2 separate regions of the Homo sapiens genome follow, and region 1 is linked to region 2. The links come from fine-mapping of genetic effects on gene expression. A gene starts in region 2. The other region holds a variant in brackets. All regions are shown on one strand. Distances are between the middles of the regions. Region 1 overlaps DDR2 (discoidin domain receptor tyrosine kinase 2). Region 2 holds the start of DDR2 (discoidin domain receptor tyrosine kinase 2).

Evidence for each region.
Region 1: its variant is fine-mapped to the expression of DDR2 in cerebral cortex (GTEx, PIP 0.96).

The regions. Positions count from the first base shown.
Region 1 is chr1:162,778,089-162,780,894 of GRCh38, reverse strand. It overlaps DDR2 (discoidin domain receptor tyrosine kinase 2), which reads right to left. Exons shown (of 18, transcript NM_006182.4): 17 at 2,166-2,315; 18 at 1-783. The coding sequence ends at 649. Among named protein-coding and RNA genes, the nearest start is that of HSD17B7, 11 kb to the left of the region's middle. The variant G/AG (reference allele first, on the strand shown) is at 1,586.
Region 2 is chr1:162,630,820-162,633,625 of GRCh38, reverse strand. DDR2 (discoidin domain receptor tyrosine kinase 2) reads right to left here and starts at 1,162. Exons shown (of 18, transcript NM_006182.4): 1 at 995-1,162. RefSeq lists enhancers at 2,315-2,414, 2,705-2,806.

The sequences.
Region 1 (2,806 bases), 150 kb before region 2:
TTCATATATGAACTTCAATCCTGACCCCTGCCCATGAATGAACAGAACACCCATTTCAAGAAATTGGGGGTTTTCAAGAATATATCATTCACTTTGACAGGAGAGAGAAATACAAACAGTGAGACATGTCCAGAGGCCAAATTAGAAAACCACCTGTGATTAGTTGCTGAATTCTGAGTCCTCAGATTCTCCACATCTATCAAGTGTTTTCCCTAAACTTAATCTCATGTTTCCCAAGACATTAGTATTCTTCAAGTTTTTCTTTCTGAAGATTCTTTTAGAATGACATGGAAAAATATTGTAGAATCTGCACATTTATAAGCACAAGTATAGTTAACCTTTATAAATTATCTGAATTTTCTAGCCTTTGTTATCCAACACTTTGGTATATCAAAGATTTTCTTTTACTAGATTGTATCTGCCCTAGGCTTTTTTTTTTCCTTTTTTAGTTCTTTAATGTAAAAAAAAAAAAAAGTGTATATGAGTCAGGGGTAGGGAGTGGGGGTGACCAGGAAAAGAGGGCAAAGCAAACAAGCCTCTGTCTCTCAGTTTCATTAAATGTCCAGATGGAGTGGCATAGGCATGGGTGAGTGGTAGGTCTTGTAGGGAGGACCTGAGCCGTAGGAACATGGCCAGGCACTGACAGCATCACTCGTCGCCTTGTTGAAGGAGCAGAAGGTGGATTTCTTGGAATGAGGGACGGTTCTTCGTATCTCTTCTCCAGCAGCTGAGCATCAGCTTATACACAGAGTCAGGACAAATGGCTGGTTGAGGGAGGTAAGTCTTTGGGAACAAAAATAAAGGAAAACAAAAGAGAGAGAGAGAGAGAATATTACAAAGACGGGGGAAAGGGAAGTATCTTTGCATCATGGTTTGATTTGCCCCCTGCCCACTTTCTTGAACTTGATAACTGAAATGGGTGTAGTGTCCATTTTTCCTACTCGTGAAAGTTCTGAATCATATCAGCCCTTTTCTAAGCTGTTCCATTTGTCTTCTGCAGTTGTCTGCAGCAGAATTTTTTGATGGGCCATTATGTGGTCCCTACCTTCATGCAAAAGATGAAACAACCAAAAAGAGACCAAATCTTCCATTTATGGGCAACCCATATTGAAGTTCATCTTGGCTGAGCCGATCATGGCAGAGGCAGAAAACAACATTTTTCTTTGGCCCACTCACTTATCTCATGTACTCAGGAGTAAATTTTCCTTTGACTATAGTAAGAAGGCAAATTGCCTCATAACCAAGATAGCTAATTTAGACTCCCTGCTGCCAAAATATTTACAGAGTATCAAGATACAATTAAATTCTCAGACCCCTCTCTTATTTTTAATATGCATAATGTATTATCTCTTGTCAATACCTTATCTATCTTTGGCTTGCTTGGATCTGTTCAAGCCACAGAAGATCCACTTTTTATTGTCTGCAAGATCCTTCCCCCAGCTATTATCCTTTTCCTGGTAAAGATACCATAATCCAAGGGTATGCTGTTGCCAGGCCCCTTTGGGGAAGTGCGGTGCTGTAGTTACTGGCAAGCTTTAAATTCCAGATCTCACAGGAATTTTAAATCTAAGCCACCCAAAAAAAA[G/AG]CTTGGAGTATCTTGGCTAGGAATTGAGACTCCTGGGGAGCTTGGGAACTCATCTTTCCCTGAGTCCTGAGATGTCACAATACTGGGCCCAGAGATGCCTTCCAAGAGCAACAAGTTTAGGATATATCTGCCCATTTTCAGACATCCAAGTCTAGAAACATTGCTAGATAGTCAAAACCAACCCCATTTCTTATACTAAGCTATATTTTTAATGAATGCTAATACATCCCTTTTACACTTTTATTTTTTGACCCAGAAGAAAAACCACATGGTCTAGATCAAGAAATAGATAAATCATGAGAGATAGGACTTTGTTTCCTGCTACCTTTGAGCTGGGGAGAAACCTGACATGACCCTTTATGCTCTCCAAGAGTCAATGAGTTGACACATAGATAAAGCAAAGTGTATGGATGCCTGGGGAGGATACTGGTCTTTCACATCATCTGGATAGTTAGTGACAAAGACTAACACCTGGATAGTCTGTCTTCCATCTCGGCCCACTCCTGCTAAGGCAGGACTTGCCATTCTCCATCCTTCAAGGTACACAGGTCCACATCCATTCATCCCCAACAGTTCTTACCTGCCTCCCTTGGTCTCGGAAGAACTCTCCAGTATTCTCAATAACCTGTTCATCTGACAGCTGGGAATAGGGCTGTTCTTGACAAAAGGTGAAAGTCTCCCACAAAGTAACCCCAAAGGCCCACACATCACTTGCTGTAGTGAACTTGCCCTATTTAAGTAAAGAAAAGAATGGGAAATCAGAATAACCTGTGCACAACAACACCCTGTTAAATTTCATAATCTGCAGCTATACCCCTTCCCCCACCACAGGCAAGGAATTCTGAAAATGCCAAGATGTGCATGGAGTATTTAGAAACAGCCCATTCTTTCATTCTCATGATCTCAGCTTGGTTCTGTTTCTCTGGGGATGAGATCCAAGAGCTGAAAAAAACGCAGCCATAAGCTATTTGACTCTGCAACTGAGTGTTAGGTCAACCTTTCAACTCTAGGGTAGCCTTGGGAAAATGCTCCTGAGAAAGGCAAAATCTGAATGGGAAGTCAATGGTTTTTATGTTAGAGATAGAGGAATCTAGTTTAAGTGCCTGCAGTGAATCCAGGACTCTCATTTACCAGTTCAGTGATAATCACAGTGTTGAAAGATAGACTTTAACAAGTGACAGCAATGAGATTCAGGTGTAAATAGCATGCATTGACTACTCA
Region 2 (2,806 bases):
AGTGGAAAGAACACTGGACTAGCAGTAGAGAGAATCTCAATTTCATTTTCAGCTCCACTACAGATGTGCTGTGGGACTTGAACAGGTCGGTCCCCTTCCTATCATTTTTTACATCTGTGGAGCGAAGGGGTTAGATGAGAGGCCTAAGGCCCTTTTCAGGACTCTTAACTCTGTGTTGTAGGAAGCCAATGATCGGCAAAATGGTGCTGAACCCCCTACTGGCTTGAACAGTACGAACTCTTGCCTCAAATGGCTGGTCTGAGAGTTTCAGCCACTGGGAACAGTTCTCTTTCCCTTTGGATGGGACTCTTGAACCTAGGCCAGGACTCAGAGGTCCCAAATGAAAACAGCCCCAGTCATTCCATAACAAAGGGAAAGGCACCCAGAGCCAGCGAGGAGATGAGTCTGGGAAGCTGTATTTCACTGTCACAACTGAAAAATCTTCCATGCACCCAGCCTCCCCCTAGCCACCCCAAATCTCAGGGGGAAGCCACCCCTCATCCAAAGTTACCCTTCTCACAAGTAAATCAGCAACTCCCCTGAAAAACAAAAAGTGCTTGGTCTACACTATCTCCAAAACTCAGGACCTTCTAACACCACTACTAAATGTCTAAAAACTTAGCTCTCCTGCTCTGCCTTCTTCATCCTGAAACTAACTCTGCAATCGGCCTGTCTTGCCTGCCAACAATTTCAACTCTGCTAACACTGTTTATTGTATCTTGCAGCTGCTATAGATTCATTTATTTTGCTTCAGGCTTCTTTGGTTATTACTGCTCTTTATTCTTCCCTTCATAGCATAAATCCAGACCCCCAAAAACATGGGATCTGATTTCTCGAGTCTGTGGTGCCTCATTACGTTCCCTTCCTTGTCTGACTTAAAACGCCCTTCTGTTTCCTTTTTAAAACTTTTCCTGAAACACCAAAAGAAGTATATGCGGAGCTTTCATTTTCAAAAAAGAAAAAATAATAAAGAAAAAAGACCCACATAACTTACTTTCATCCAGGGGTGCACAGTTTTGGAAAGAAGAAAACAGAGCTATAATCCACTGCGTTTCCCCAACCCAAAAAGAAGAATTTGTTGTGAAACGCTTCTTTTTCCACTTTGCTGGTGAAGGAGCCCGGTGGTAGGCATACATCCACAGGCTGATGCAAGATGCCTTTGAGAGAAACCTCACATTCTGAGGATTCCTGGGAAAGCGCCAGGGATCCCAGCATCCAATATATTGCACATTTGGTTTCAATTAGGAAGGGGGTTGGGGAGGGAAGAAGGAAAGTCACCAATCAGAGCTGTTTTCTGTTTGGAGACTATTTCTTTTGACCCAAGGGACTATGGGCAAAGCTATAATTTACAGCAAAACCCATTCATAGAAGAAAAAATATGTATAACCATAGGACAGACTTAAAGACACCGCTCCCTTCTGCCTTATTCCCACCCATATCCATCTCCACTTCCTTCCCCTCCATCTAAGACTTGATCCCCTTCCTGTGATCCCCACCCCCCCGCCGCCTACCCCACACCTCATTTTTCTTACTTGAGCTGAAGCTATAAGCAAAACTTAAAGTTTGGAGTTTTCCAATTGAAGCTTCCAGGACAGTTGGGGCACACACGCGGAGCTGACCTTTAGTATTTTGACCATGAAAGCCTAGAGCTGAGCTCTCCCCCGAAAGATTTGATTTAATCCCTTCCCACCACGGCTCCCCCCACCAAGAAAACAACTGGAAACTGCCAGAATCCAGGATTCCTATTTTTTTCCACTCAATTCCCAGTTGGCTGCTGCCTCTGAGGGTCTGTTGCTGTCCTGGATTCATGCTGCTAAATGAAAACACAAGCATTTATAAGGACTTTCTAAATTATTTTGTGAACTTTTTTTTCCCTCCTTTATCTTCTCCCCGCTTCCACAGCTATAGTCAGAGATCATGTGAAAGGGGCGGGTAGGCAACAGGGGAGGAGCCTTCACTCCACTCTCCAAACGATAACTAATAACCCTCTCCATCCATCCAGGCTCCAGCCTTAACCCTTCAGAGCCTGGATCATTCCTGACCAAGCCCACGCTGGGCTGTTCTGGAGGTCCTGATTCTCCGTGAGTATGGAGAATGCAGGGCAAGCAGGGACCCAGGGGCAGGAGATCCAAAGAGAGAGGTAGATGGCAAAAGGCAGGTCAAGAAGACCGAGCTTACCTTTGAGAGCCAGACTTCTTGTAAAGAGACCTCCTTTCTCTGAGCTCTGGAGCTATCACCAGCTCTTCTCTGTTTGTAGTTAATCTGGGATTGCACAGTCTCCAAGATGAGCAAGAAAAGAAGTGAGCAAACAGGAAAGGGAGGATGGAAAGAGATCATGGAGGAACGTTCCCATAGTAAGTTAGGGGCAGGAGATGTTTCATAAGGGGAATGGAAAAGCGCACACACACACACACACACACACACACACACACACACACACACAATGAGGGTGGCCATGAAACTGAGAGCTAGTGTTGAGTCAGTGTTAAGTCCCTAAAAGTCTCATAAGCTCAGCACCAGTCTGAGGGTCAGAAAGCAGCCGTTAACATCTGTGCCTCACAGCTGTTACAGAAAAGGACACGGAGAACATGGGAATGGTTCAGAGGGCAGCCATGGAAATGATTAAAGGCAGCAAGCAAGACCTTAGAGAAAAAACTAGAACTAGGGTTAGTTTATGAAGAGAAAAGACACTGCAGAGATCAACTTATTAAGAAGACTCTTCAAATAACTTACAGCATCTGAAGTCAGGCCTGAGGGTGACTCAGGCCAGACATGCAGCTCAACTCAATAAATATGTGTTGGGCTC